2 linked regions of the Homo sapiens genome follow. Each later gene encodes a partner of the first gene's protein in a complex. Each region holds a gene or a part of one and is shown in the gene's direction. Other genes may lie near its edges.

The links.
Region 2: RRN3 (region 1) and TAF1A share a complex: the UniProt entries of both Homo sapiens proteins name them as parts of the pol I pre-initiation complex.

What each region holds. Positions count from the first base shown.
Region 1 is NC_000016.10:15,091,161-15,099,194, reverse strand, and holds the start of RRN3 (RNA polymerase I-specific transcription initiation factor RRN3), read left to right. Parts: upstream 1-4,922; 5' UTR 4,923-4,961; coding exon 4,962-5,050; intron 5,051-6,580; coding exon 6,581-6,686; intron 6,687-7,823; coding exon 7,824-7,880; intron 7,881-8,034. UniProt on the Homo sapiens protein: Required for efficient transcription initiation by RNA polymerase I (Pol I). Required for the formation of the competent pre-initiation complex (PIC).
Region 2 is NC_000001.11:222,565,858-222,573,131, reverse strand, and holds part of TAF1A (TATA box-binding protein-associated factor RNA polymerase I subunit A), read left to right. Parts: intron 1-2,466; coding exon 2,467-2,597; intron 2,598-3,463; coding exon 3,464-3,622; intron 3,623-3,707; coding exon of another isoform or gene 3,708-3,749; exon of another isoform or gene 3,750-5,707; intron 5,708-6,606; coding exon of another isoform or gene 6,607-6,658; intron 6,659-7,274. UniProt on the Homo sapiens protein: Component of the transcription factor SL1/TIF-IB complex, which is involved in the assembly of the PIC (pre-initiation complex) during RNA polymerase I-dependent transcription.

The sequences.
Region 1 (8,034 bases):
TGCCTCAGCCTCCCAAAGTACAGGGATTACAGGCATGAGCCACAGGGCCCGGCCAGTATTTTTCTTGTATAATGCTCAGAGTTTCCTTTAAATCTTTTTAAAAACTTGGCAGCCTTAGTCTTAGCTGTGCTTTGGGAAAATAAGGAGCTGCACTCAAGCTTAAGAAGATATTGCTGGAAGTGTACATTGGCACAGCCTTCAAAAAGCTTCTTGGTGCCCTCCTGTAACCCAATCGACACTGGCTAGAGAGATGAGGTCATATTGCATCAAATGGCTTCCAGTGATTCTTTGCTGTGGACAAGAAAGTTGCTCTTTTTTTTTGAGAGGGAGTTTTGATGCCTAGGCTGGAGTGCAATGGCAGTGATCTCGGCTCACTGCAACCTCTGCCTCCCAGGTTCAAGTGATTCTCCTGCCTCAGCCTCCCAAGTAGCTGGGATTACAGGCATGTGCCACCATGCCAGGCTAATTTTGTATTTTTAGTAGAGACAGGGTTTTTCCATGTTGGTCAGGCTGGTCTCGAACTCCCGACCTCAGGTGATCCACCCACCTTGGCCTCCAAAAGTGCTGGGATTACAGGCGTGAGCCACCATGCCCGGCCAAGAAGGTCACTCTTTATGCTCAACAAATGTATTGCAAATGGCTGAAAGGTAGGGAGGATCCAGATGAACAATTTCTAAATAGAAAAACTAATAGTAGCCAGACACGATGGCTCACACCTGTAATCCCAGCATTTTAGGAGGTCAAGGTAGGCAGATCACCTGAGGTCAGGCATTTGAGACCAGCCTGGGCAACATGGAGAAACCCCATCTCTACTAAAAATACAAAAATTAGCCAGGTGTGGTGGCGGGCACATGTAGTCCCAGCTACTCAGGAGGCTGAGGCAGGAGAATCGCTTGAACCCGGGAGGCAGAGGTTGCAGTGAGCTGAGCTTGTGCCACTGTACCCCAGCCTGGGCAACAGAGTGAGACTCTGTCTCAAAAAAAAAAAAAAAAAATCATAGATATCCAATTTGTTCCTTTCTCCTTTCCTAAAAGCTTTTGGTGCCCCCTCCAACCCAACAGTTCCACCCTAGAAAAACACTTGTACACATACATCAGGACATGATACAAGAATATTCAGGCTGGTCGCGGTGGCTCATGCCTATAATCTCAGCATTTTGGGAGGCCGAGGTGGGAGGACGGCGGGAGATCATGCCACTGCACTCCAGCCTGGGCAACAGAGGGAGACTCCGTCTCAAAAAAAAAAAAAAAAAAAAAGCATAATGTTGAAAACAAACAGCAGTATAATACAGCATGGAGATAACTTTATAAAATGCAAAGACAAATAAAAGTAAATATAGTGCATTGTTTAGGAGTATAAATATGATAATTATTCAAAGAAAACTAAAATGACTTTTAAAAATCATGATGGTGACTATTTTTGGGAGGAAAGCAGGTAGAAGGTGGGATCCGAGAGCAGCACAGAGTAAGTGTCAATTGTCCTAGTTAATGTTCGGCTTCTTAAATTGGGCGATATGTTCACAGGTGTTCATTATGTTCTTTTTTTTTTTTTTGGAGACGGAGTCTCACTCTGTCACCCAGGCTGGGGTGCAGTGGCGCGATCTCGGCTCACTGCAAGCTCCACCTCTCGGGTTCATGCCATTCTCCTGCCTCAGCTTCCCAAGTAGCTGGGATTACAAGTGCCTGCCACCACGCCCGGCACATTTTTTTTTTTTTTTTTTTTTTTTGTATTTTTAGTAGAGACGGGGTTTCACCGCATTAGCCAGGATGGTCTCGATCTCCTGACCTCGTGATCCGCCTGCCTCGGCCTCCCAAAGTGCTGGGATTACAGGCAGGAGCCGCTGTGTCTGGCCCATTATGTTCTTATAACTTACATTAACATATTATTTTGTACATATCAAGCTTTTTTTCCCTTTTTTTTTTTAAGAGATGAGATTTTGCTTTGTCACCCAGGCCAGAGAGTGTCGTGGTGTAGTCATAGCTCACTGCAGCTTCCAACTCCTGGGTTCAAGTGATTCTCCCACCTCTGTCTCCCAAATAATTGGAACTACAGGCACGTGCCACCATGCCTGGGTAAGTTTTTTAAAAGTGTTATTTGTAGAGACGGAGTCTGGCTGTGTTGCCTGGGCTGGTCTCAAACTCCTGGCTTCAAGTTATCCTCCTGCCTCAGCCTCCCAAAGCTCTGGCATTACAGGTGTGAGTCACTGCACCCAGACTCAGACTTTTTTTAAGGGAAAGAATGGGAGTGTAGGTGGGGAGACACACTTTGGGAGGCCAAGGTGGGAGGATCACTTGGGCCGGGGGTTCAAGACCAGCCTGGGCAACAAAGTGAGACCTCGTATTTACCAAAAATACAAAAAATTAGCTGGGCTTGGTGGTGTGGGTTCGGGCGGCTGAGGTGAGAGGATTGCATAAGCTGTAGGAGCCCGAGGCTGCAACGAGCCATGATCGCGCCATTGCGCTCTAACTTGGGCTAGACAATGAGATCCTGTCTCAAACCAAAACAAAACAAAACAGATAATTGTCAGATTGCTGTTTTGCTATTGTTGCTTTTTGTTTTTGCTTTGCTTTCCCTTGGAAGTGAAGAAGAGATTCTCATTTAAACAGTTATCTTGAAGTATCTTTGTGAGCTACGGTGCAATTATTTCCTCTGTCCTTGAGACACAGATGATTCCTGTCCAACATTCCCAAGGAACTCAGTAAGGACCAAATAGAGACTCAGGAAAGACAGTTACTGATTTTACACTGTTGCAAAACAGAGCTATGGTTTATGTTTAACAAACTGCTGGCGGGGCGTGGTGGCTCATGCCTGTAATCCCAGCACTTTGGGATGCCAAGGCGGGCGGATCACTTGAGGTCAAGAGTTTGAGACCAGCCTGGCCAACATGGTGAAACCCTGTCTCTACTAAAAATACAAAAATTAGCTGGGCATGGTGGCGCATGCCTGTAATCCTAGCTACTGGGGAGGCTGAGGCACAAGAATCGCTTGAACCTGGGAAGCAGAGGATGCAGTGAGCCAAGATCATGACACTGTACTCCAGCCTGGGTGACAGAGCGAGACTCTGTCTCAAAAAAAAAACAAAAAACAAAAAAACCAAATTGCTGTATTTTATGTTGTGAAATAGGGTCTTGCTGTGTTGTCCAGGCTGGAGTGCAGGGGTACAATCACAGCTCACTGCAGCCTTGACCTCCAGGGCTCAAGTGATCCTCCGTCCTCAGTTTTCAAGTAGCTGGGACTACAGGTATGCACCACCATATGTTGCCCAGGCTGGTCTTGAACTCCTGGAGAGAGATACATATAAACACACACACACACACACACACACACACACACCTTTTTTTTTTTTGAGACACAGTTTCACTCGTCACCCAGGCTGGAGTGCAATGGCACGATCTTGGCTCACTGCAACCTCTGCCTCCTGGGTTCAAACTATTCTCCTGCCTCGGCCTCCCAAGTAGCTGGGATTACAGGCACTGCCACCATGCCTGGCTAATTTTGTATTTTTAGTAGAGACAGGGTTTTGTCATGTTGGCCAGGCTGGTCTCAAACTTCTGGCCTCAGGTGATCCACTTGCCTCGGCCTCCCAAAGTGTTGGGATAACAGGCGTGAGCCACTGCGCCGGGCCCATACATATGCATTTTTAAAAACTTATTTATTTATTTCGAGACAGGGTCTCACTCTGTTGCCCAAGCAGGAGTGCAGTGGTGCTATCTCCCAGGCTCAAGCAATCCTCAGCCTCCCGAGTAGCTGGGACTACAGGTGTGTGCCACCACACCCAGATAATTTTTATTATTTTTATTTTTTAAATTTTTTGTAGAGATGGAGTTTCACCGTGTCACCCAGGCTGGATATTTTTGTATTTTTGATAGGCCTGTACAGTTTCCAAAGTTGCAACCTTTTCCCCTCCCTGAGAGTAGGGGCAGCCCCTGCTCTCCCTCTACATCCTCCACAGTCCCGAGGTTTTGGCCTCTGTTTCCTCCGTTTCCTATGCTTGGAACGCCAGTGGCTCTTTTGTTGGTCTGGCTGACTCCTGTTCCTCTTTTAAAAATTTAAGTTTGGCCGGGCGTGGTGGCTCATGCTTGTAATCCCAGCACTTTGGGAGGCCGAGGCGGGCGGATGACCTGAGGTCATGAGTTCGAGACCAGCCTGGCCAACACAGTGCAACCCCGTCTCCACTAAAAATACGAAAATTAGCCGGGTGTGGTGGCATGCGCCTGTAATCCCAGCTACTTGGGAGGCTGAGGCACGAGAATTGCTGGAACTGGGGAGGCGGAGGTTGCAGTGAGCTGAGATCACACCACTGCACTCCACCTGGGCAAAAGGGCAAGACTCGGCCTCAAAAGAAAATAAATAAATAAATAAATAAAGTCAAGGGGGTAACACCTCTTCGTAACTCTCCTGTTGTTTCTCATGCCAGCATCACCATAGCCTTGAGGCTCTGAGGTAGGTCACTTCGTCGAGCTCGTTTCCGTGAGGATAACGTTATCTTGGGTGTCTGTGAGACTGCTGCACTGAGTATAGAGCCCAGGCTCCTGGGTCAGCCGGGTTCGAATCCCCTTTCCTCCGTGAAGATCTGGGTCAGTCACAAGTGCTTCAGTTTCTTCGATTTGACTGAGGGAGGCTTTGACTCCAAAAAATTAACACTTGAGTGTACCCGGCCACAGCTTAGCACATCCAGGGTGTTTCCACCCTTTCTTCGGGATCCTCAGGGCTGGATGGAGCCGGTCCTTCCCGTCTCTCCTTATACTCACGCACTAGCGCTGGCTGGAACAAGTCCTCCAAGTAGAACGAGGAGCGGGTTTCAGCGGCGCTCTAGCCCGCCGAGAGCATACGCCCTCCCCACGCGGGGCCGCTGATTGGCTGAAGGTTGCGCTGGCACGCGCAACTTCCGGGACAGAGGCTGTGGCTGGAAGGAGCTGGGCATCCGGCCTGAGGCGCAGCGGTCGCGTTAGTTCGGCCCAATGGCGGCACCGCTGCTTCACACGCGTTTGCCGGGAGATGCGGCCGCTTCGTCCTCTGCAGTTAAGAAGCTGGGCGCGTCGAGGACTGGGTAAGATTCAGGCCGCTTCCTTCTGCGTATCTGGGACGAAAGCTCAGGACGGCGCTTAGAGGAGCGGATTGAAAGGATGTGGGACAAAGCTCATGGCGTGTGATAGGAGCACGGGGTGGAGGGTCATCTCACGTTCACAGAAATGAGCTCATTCCTCCTAACTGGGTAATAGACATGGGTGGGGCCTGGAAAAGTGACTATGTTCTCTGTTCTGGAGGCCCCCTTTCCCGACTGTGTCTCTTCGTGATTTCCCAGGCCTGGGTACTGCCTTCTGCGCCTTGACCCCTCTTCCTTCCCTCTTCTTCGTCCAAATTTGGAAGGGATTTCCCTGGGCTATGTGGGTTATCAGCCGAACGTCGTCACTCATGGCAAATTGAATATTACATCTTTTTTGTTTGGAATTTGTTTCGACACACGTATTTGTTTCGCAGTCTTTATTTTGCTCCACTTTTAAAATCCCTAACCCCCGTAGCACTCTTGGCGTTTAACTTTCAGAGTCATTAGGATGCTATGTTTTTTCATTAATTTACTACGTGTAAGTGAAGCAAACCTTGTAAAACAATTAGCGTAATATGATTCATAATAATTATCGAGCTCCTGCTTACTGTGTTAAACACTGGGGACAGTGGTTTATCCAAAGACACTAATGTCCCTGCTTTCTACAGAGCTTACAGCATAGGGGGGAAAGGCAGTACATAGGCCAATAAATAAACGAACACGATGATTTCAGTTATACAACAAGGTAATGGGGGAGGGAGAAGGGAGAGAAGGAGCTTTTGAGATTTCTCATTGGGAAGACATCTGTCATTTGAGCTTCCACTTGAATGAAGACAAAAATCTAGGCCGGGCGCGGTTGCTCACGCCTGTAATCCCAGCACTTTGGGAGGCCGAGGCGGGCGGATCATCTGAAGTCAGGAGTTGGAGACCAGCCTGGCCAACGTGCGAAACCTCGTCTCTACTGAAAATACAAAAATCAGCCGGGCATGGTGGCAGGTGCCTGTAATCCCAGCTACTCAGGAGGCTGAGGCAGGATAATTGCTTGAACCCGGGAGATGGAGGTTGCAGTTAAGCCAAGATCACACCACTGCACTCCAGCCTGGGCAGCAGAGCAAGACTCCATCTCAAAAAAAAAAATCCAGCCACGTAGAGATTTGGGAAAAGAGTATTTCCAATAGAGTGAACAGTAAGTGAAATGAAAAACAGCTTGGCTTGTTTGAAGAGCAGAAAAGACGTTATGGCTGTAGTAAAACAAGTTGTTGGAGATGAGGTGAGAGAGGTAGGCAGGGGCCAGATTAATGTAGGATCTTAAAGACCACACTGAGAGATTTGGATTTTTACTGTAAGTGCAGTGGGAAGACAGTTATTGGTTGCTGAGCAAAGGAAGGATTGTTGGTTAAGAGTGGAAGCAGGGAGACCAGTAAAGAGGCCTTAACAATAGTTCCACTGAATTATGTTGGTTCAATAAATGTTGGCTATTATAATTTTTATTATTTTCATGAACTTAATAGCTTGTTAATCTTGGTTCCACAGGATTTCAAATATGCGTGCATTAGAGAATGACTTTTTCAATTCTCCCCCAAGAAAAACTGTTCGGTTTGGTGGAACTGTGACAGAAGTCTTGCTGAAGTACAAAAAGGTAAGGGGAGATAATGTGTGAGGTTTGCTTTTGGTTAGGTCAGAATACAACTATTGCTGTTATACTAAAGACCAATAGAAATAGCAAGATTAATTAAGATACCAGTTGAAATCAAATATTTAATAATAGCATGATGCCGTCAGTGCAAAATTAGAGTAATAGTGTCCTTTTTTTCCCCCACCTTGGCCCATTTCACAGGTAATAATGAGAGAGTAATAATGTCTTTACTGAGGTTTCACCTCTTCAAATGCTTTATTTACGAAGCATCTTTTAACTTTAGCAAGTGCCAGAATTAAAAACAATTACACCATTTTATTTATTTATTTATTTGTGCTGGAGTCTTCCTCTGTCACCCAGGCTGGAGTGCAGTGGCGTGACCTCGGCTCACTGCATCCTCCACCTCCCAGGTTCAAGCAATTCTCCTGCCTCAGTCTTCCGAATAGGTGGGGTTACAGGCACACACCACCACACCTGGCTAATTTTTTTATTTTTTTAGTAGAGGCAGGGTTTCACCATGTTGGCCAGGCTGGTCTCGAACTCCTGACCTTGTGATCCACCCGCCTTGGCCTCCCAAAGTGCTGGGATTACAGACGTGAGCCACCATGCCTGGCCTACAGCATTTTATTTTTTGAGGAACTTACCTAAGCATTACTTTGGGACAGTAAACCAGTTCTCTGAGTAGGGATTTTTGTTTTTGTGGTAGTTTAGAAGCATTTCTACTGTATCTCAGCAGTAGAGGGAAAATGTTAAGTAACCATATGTTTATATGTAATATCCATTTGTATCCATATTTGAGTGAATACTTTTTTAGATCCTCCTGAATTAGATCATTATAGCTGGCTGTTTTTTTCCCTCATGCTTTTTGAGAATTCGCAGGAGTATCAACTATTATATTCAAATGTCAATACAGAAGTATAGCTAAATGTAGTTTATCATTTTCCTTTTTCCAAGCCCTCTGGCTGCACTAACATGAGTGTTTAAATTTTTGTAGTCATGATTTTATAATCCGCAATTGACATGTGAAAGTTAGTGTTCCTTTTATAATTTCATCTGATGTTAAAGTACGGTTAAAAGTCTTGCTGTTGATACTAAACAGGAAACAAAAGCATAACTTAATTCTTTCCCCTTCTTGTTAAGGGTGAAACAAATGACTTTGAGTTGTTGAAGAACCAGCTGTTAGATCCAGACATAAAGGTAATTAATTTTGTGTTTGATCATTAGCAAAATTATTGCCACTGTATACAGACATAGTTTGCTCTTTGGGTCCCATTCTGTCCTCCAGAACTTGCTCTCTCCATGGTCCTCCCTTATTTTAATCTGGTGGTTCTCAACCAGGGACAGTTTTACC
Region 2 (7,274 bases), on another chromosome or scaffold:
ACGCCCAGCTAATTTTTGTGTTTTTAGTAGAAATGGGGTTTCACCATGTTGGCCAGGCTGGTCTCGAACTCCTGACCTCAAGTGATCTGCCCACCTCAGCCTCCCAAAGTGTTGGAATTACAGATGTGAGCCACTGTGCCTGGCCTTCTTTTCACTATCTTGATGGTGTCCTTTGAAGCATAAAAGTGTTTCATTTGATGAGGTTTAATTTAACTGTTTCTTCTTTTGTTGCTTGTGGTTTTGGTATCACATCTAAGAAGCTGTTGCCTACTGCAAGGTCGCAAAGATTTTCACTTCTTCTGAGAGTTTTAAAGTTTTAGCTCTTATATTTTGGCCTTTGAGTTAATTTTTATGAAGTAGGTAGGGGCCCAACTTTATTATTTTGTATGTGGATATCCAGTTGTAGCATTTATTGAAAAGTCTATTATTTTCCCACTGAATTGTCTTGGCACCCTTACTGAAAATTAGTTAGCAGCCGGGAGCAGTGGCCATGCCTGTAATCCTAGCACTTTGGGAGGCCAAGACAGGTAGATCGCATGAGCCCTCAGGAGTTCGAAACCAACCTGGGCAACATGGTGAAACTGCATCTCTACAAAAAATACAAAAATTAGCTGAGTGTGGTAGCGTGTGCCTGTAGTCCTGGCTACTTGAGTGGCTGAGGTGAGAGGTTCACTTGAGCCCAGGAGGTAGAGTGAGGCTTCAGTAAGCTGAAATCATGCCACTGCAGTCCAGCCTGGGAGACAAAGTAAGGCCCTGTCTTACACACACACAAAAGAAAATTAGTTACCTATAAATGTAGAGGTTTACTTCTGGACTCTAAATCTTCCATTGATCTACATGTGTCTCTCTTTCTGCCCATATCACACAGTCTTGATTACTACAGCTTTGTAGTACTTTTTTTTTTTTTTTTTTTGAGACTGAGTCTTGCTGTGTTGCCCATGCTGGAGTATAGTGGCAGGATCTCAGCTCACTGCAATCTGTGTCTTCCAGGTTCAAGCGATTCCTGTGCCTCAGCCTCCTGAGTAGCTGGGACTACAGGCGTGTGCCACCACGCCCAGCTAATTTTTTCGTACTTTTAGTAGAGACGGGGTTTCACCTTGTTGGTCAGGCTGGTCTCGAACTCCTGACCTCAGGTGATCCACCCACATCGGCCTCCCAAAGTGCTGGGATTATAGGTGTGAGCCACCATGCCTGGCCATAGTCATAGAGTACATTATCCAACTTTGTCCTTTTTAAAGATTCTTTGTTCTTCTTTGGTCCCTTGCATTTTCGTATGAATTATAGAATCAGCCTGTCAACTTATGCAAAAAGGCCGAGTTTTTGATAGGAATTACATGTATCTGTAGATCAATTTGACAATAGTAAGTCTTTCAACTGAACACAGAGTGTCTTTTCATTCATTTAGGTCTTAAAAAATTTTTTTTCAACAGTATCACTTTTCAGAGTAAAATTTTGCATCTCTTTTGTAAAATTTCTACCCATTTTGTTACTTTTGATGCTTTTGCAAATGGCATTGTTTTCCTAATTTTATCTTCTGCTTGTTCATTGCAAGTGTATAGACATACAGTTGATTATTGTGTATTGATCTTGTACTCTGCAACCTTTGTGAACTCATTTATTAGTTCAGTAAATTTTTAGTGGGTTCTTAGGATTTTTCTGTGTACAAGACCATGTCATCTGCAAATAGAGATAGTTTTACTTCTTCCTTTCCAATCTTGGATATCTTTTTGTTATGTTCTTGCTTAATTGTCCTGGCTGGAACCACCAATATAATGAACAAAAGTAGTGAGAAAAGACATTTTTGTCTTATTACTGATTTTAGGGGGAAAGCATGCAGTCTTTTATCATTCAGTTCAATGTTAGCTATGAGTTTTTCATAGATGCCCTTTATCAGATTGAGGAAGTTCCTTCTGTTCCTACATTGTTGAGTCTTTTTATCATGAAGGGTTATTGTGTTTTTTCAGATGCTTTTTCTGTGTCTATTGTGATGATCATGAGGTTTTGGTCCTGTATTCTTTTGATTTGGTTTAGATCAATAGATCTCTATTTTATTATTTGCATTAATTGATTTTCAGATGTTAAGCCAACCTTGCATTCCTAGTATAGATCCGACTTGGACATGATGTATAATGCTTTTTATATGTTGTTGGACTCAGTTTGCTAGTATTTTTGTTAAAGATTTTTGCAGCTATATTCTTAAGAGATACTGATCTGTAGTTTTATTGTGTTGTCTTTGGTTTTGGTATCATGGTAATACTGGCTTAGAATAAGTTAGGAAGTATTCTTTTCTGTCCTTTTTTTGGGAGAATTTGTGAAGAATTAGTATTTTCCTTTAAATATTTGTTGGAATTTACTGTTGTAGCTATCAGCAACTGAGTTTTTCTCGCAGATAGTTTTTTAAATTACTAATTTAACAGAGGTCCTCAATGTTTAATGAATGTTAAAAGATCTTGTATCTTTGGGCAGATAAGGATGATTATGCTTACAATGCAGTAGCCCAGGATGTGTTCAACCACAGCTGGAAGACATCTGCAAATATTTCTGCATTGATTAAAATTCCTGGAGTTTGGGACCCTTTTGTGAAGAGTTATGTAGAAGTAAGTAGAATTTTCATTAAATTTATTGGTTTTATTTTGTCAAAAGCCTATACAAAGACTGCATGCCTAATCTTTATTGATCAGAAAGAAACTAATGGAAAAAATTATTTAAAAGAAAGCAAAAATACGGTGTCTCTTTTTTGGTCTGAATTTGTTTATTTTCACCACTGTATAACCCGTCGTGGCCAAGTATCTATAAAATAAATAGCAGTATAGTTGTAAATGTTAATTCAATCTTATTCTTGTTGAGCTTAAAAGAAATGCAGTAAGATACCTTATGATTTGGTGGGATATAGAAGGAAAGAGGACAAAAATCTGAAAAAATGGGTCATACTATATGAGGTGAAGAATGATGGCTTTTTGGAAGTTCATAAGAATGTCCTGTCATCCCAGAGTCATTGTAAAAGGACTGAGGGCCTTGGTGCTAGGCACTAGGAATAAATCTTCAAAATAATTTGCTTTGTGAAAGTTAATGAGTGGCAAGTTGATAATTGTGTTGTCAGAAGATAATCTCCAAAATCATAATCTGGAGATTCCTGTGTAAGGATGGGAACAGGATGAAAGGAATTACAATTCTCATGCACTCCTTTTGTGGCTGCAGTGATGTAGGGCACTGAGGTTAGCTGCATCACATTTTCGAGCATTAGTGTTCCCTGCTTTGAGGACTCTTATTTTTTATAGGAAGAGAATTTATGTTGAGGTTGCTGCATTGTTTATTAGTAGTAACAAAATACAGGGAAAAAATGGGAACCCTGTCAGTTTTGTGATTTTTAAAAAATACCCATCAGTAAACTTATGCTGTGTATTATTTTTCGTATAGCTGTCTTACAGAATTCAGCTAAGATATTATGATTTATTTTATATAGATGCTGGAATTCTATGGGGATCGAGATGGAGCCCAAGAGGTACTCACCAATTATGCATATGATGAAAAGTTTCCATCAAATCCAAATGCCCATATCTACTTATACAACTTTCTAAAGAGACAGAAGGCACCAAGATCAAAATTGATAAGTGTGCTTAAGGTATAGAATTTTTATCTCGATGTTTGACCAGGGTTGGGAATCTACATTAAAACATTCTTAGGCCATTGCTTTCTAACTTTTATAGCATCTACAGAAAATTTCAATAATGTACAGTACACTGAGATAAACAGAGAAAGTTGGCTCCAGCTGCCATCTCCATGTATGTATCATCCACACTATCCCCTGCTGCCCGGATGAGACTGAGGAGAGAGGATCAGAAGTCTTGTGCAACCCTGGTTGGAATACTCTGCACTGATATTTTTTGAAAATCAACTTTATTGAAATTTAGTTTTCAGAGAGTAAACACACTTATTTTAAGTATGTGCTTGGATGCGTTACATTCATGAACCACCATGGTAATCATGATATAGAACATTTCTGTCGCCCCCAGAATGCCTTTCATTTCCCTTTGCAGCCTGTCTGTCCCCACAACCATGGCCCCAGACAATCACTGATCTGCTTATTGTCACTATAGATTAATTTTTATCTCTTCTAGAATTTCATGTAAATGGACTCTTATGTAGTCATTTTAATCTGGCTTCTCTTGCTCAGCGTAACATATTTGAGATTCACCCATGTTATTGTGTATATTAGTAATTTCCTTATTACTGCTGAATAGTATTTCATTTTTATACATTCACTTCTTGATGGACATTTGGGTAATTTTTACTTTTTGGCTATTGTGAATGATGCTGCTGAGAACATTCATGTACAAGATTCTGTATACACATATATTTTCATGTTTCTTGGGTAGCTACCTGAGAGAGGAGTTGCTGCCTAAGAGTAGTAAGGAAAGTATATGCTTAACTTCCTAAGAAACTGCCCAGCTGTTTTTTGAAGTGACTGTACCATCGACATTCACACAGCAATATGAAAATTCAGTTTCTCCACATCTGTGCCAACACTTGGTATTGGAGGTCTTTTGAATAATAGCCTCTTGTGGGTGTCCCATGTGGCATTAAATTGTATTTCCCTAATGACTAGTGATGTTGAGCATCTTTTAGTATGTCTATTGGCCATCCTGTATCTTCTTTTGTCATGTGTCCAACTACTTAGTCTATTTTTGGGGGGATCAATTGTCTTCTTACTGATTTGGAAATTTTTATATAATCTGGATATAAGTCCTTTGTGAAGAATATTAATTATGAATATTTTCTCTCTGACTGTGCCTTGCCTTTTGGTTTCCTTAATAGTATCTTTCAAAGAGTAGAAACTTCTAGTTTTGATGTTCAGTTTGTACATTTTTTTTTCTTTTATGGTTAGTGCTTTTTGTCTAAGAAATATTTGCCTATCTCAAGATAATGAAGAGTTCTTTTTTTTTTTTTTTTCTAGATGTGTTGTATAGTTTTATGTTTAGGTCATGGTAGATTTTTAGCTATTTTTTTGTGGGTAGTGTGTGGCAAAGGTCAAGGTTCATTTTTTCCCATGTGGTTGTTCCAGCATTATATTGAAGACTCTCCTTTCTCCATTTAGTACATTTGGAACTTTGTTGAAAACCAGTAGGCTGTATATGAAGTCTGTTGTGTTCTAGTGATGTATATTTCCACCTCAATAGATGAAAATTCAGTTTCTCCACATCCTTGCCAATACTTCATATTGTAGGTCTTCTAAATGTGAGTTATTGCCATTCTAGTGGGTGTGTAGTAATATCTCATGTGGCCTTAATATGGTTACTGTAGCTTTGTAGCAAGTCTTGGAATCATATCATGAAAGTCATACAAATTTGTTCTTTTTCAAAATTGCTTTTGGCTTTTCTAGGTTCTTTAACTTTCCATGTATATTGTATAATCAACTTACCTGTTGCTACAAAAAGGTCTTGCTGAGATTTTGAATCTATAGATCAGTTTGAGAGAATTGACATCTCAACTGTATTGAGGTTTCCAAAGTGTAAACATGGCATGTCTCTCCATTTATTTAGGTTTTTAATTTCTCTCTGAACTGTTTTGTAGTTTTTAGTGTATGTATTTTGTTAAATTTGTCCCTAAGTGTTTCATGGGGTTGTTGTATATAATATTGCTTAACATTTTAAATTGTGGGAAAATATATACAAAAATAAATGTTACCATTTTGATCATTTTTAAAGCATATAATTTAGTGGCATTAAGTACATTCATTCACAGTTTTGTGCAACCACCATCACTGTCTATTTCCAGAATGTTTTCGTTATCCGAAGTAGAAACTATTCATTAAACAATAACTCCTCATTGCCTGCTCCTCCCAGCCCCTGAAAACCTCTGTGCTAATTTCCATCTTCGTGAATTTGATTATTCTAGGTACCTCATATAAGTGGAATCATATAACATTTGTCCTTTTGTGTCTTGCTAATTTCACTTAGCATAATGTTTTCAAGGTTCATCCATGTTGTAGCATATATCAGAACGGCCATTTTTATTTAAGGCTGAATAATATTCCATTTTATGTACCTACAACATTTTGCTTATCCATTTCTTGGTAGACATTTGGGTTGTGTTTGTTGTTTGGCTATTATAAGTAATGCTGCTCTAAAGATTAGTGTACAGGTATTTGTTGGAGTTCGCTGCTTTCACTTCTTTTGGGTGTATACTCAGGAGTGAAATTGCTGGATTATATGGTAATTCTTTTAACTTTTTGAGGAATTGTCAAACTGTTTTCTACAGCAACTACACTATTTTACATTCCTACCAACAATTCCACATCCTGGCTAACAGCTTCTATTCTCCATCCCCTTTTTTGATCATTGATATCCTAGTGCAGGGATCCCCAACCCCTGGGTCATGGACCGGTATCTGTTTGTGACCTGTTAGGAACCAGGCCACACAGCAGAAAGTGAGCATCAGGCAAGTGAGCATTACCTGAGGTCTGCCTCCTGTCAGATCAGCGGTGGCATTAGATTCTCATAGGAGCCCGGACCGTATTGTGAACTGCACATGGGAGGGATCTAGGTTGTGTGCTCCTTATGAGAATTTAATGCCTAATGATCTGTAACTGTCTCCCATCACCCCCAGATGGGATCATCCAGTTGCAGGAAAACAAGGGCTCTCACTGATTCTACTTATGGTGAGTTGTATAATTATTTCATTATATATTATAATGTAATAATATAAAGTGCACAATAAATGTAAAGTGCATAAATAATGCAATCCCGAAACCATCCTTGACCCTCACACTGGTCTGTGGAAAAATTGTCTTCCACGAAACCAGGACCTGGTGCCAAAAAAGTTGGGGACCGCTATCCTAGTGGGTGTGAAGTGGTATCTGTGTCTCAGTGTGGTTTTGGTTTGCATTTCCCTAATGTCTAGTGATGTGTATCTTTTCATGTGCTTATTGGCCATTTGTTTATCATCTTTGGCAAATGTCTATTCAAGTCCTCTGCCCTTTTATGAATTGGGTTGTTTGGTTTTTGTTGTTAAATTATAGGAATTCTTTGTATATTTTGTGTTCAGTTTTTAATCATGGCATTTTAGAGGTGAAAGACAAAGGTCCTTTCAACCTAAAGAAATGATAGAGAAAAGTTCTTATCTCTGTTTTCTTTTAAAAGGCCAATTATCTTTATACTTTCGTGATCAAAATTGGCATTATCAAACCTTCAGATGTGGAAACTAAGTTTTATAAATTTTTCAACAGGCTTTGTTTTACTAAACAATCCTTTGCTGTTGTTGTTGTTTGAAACAGG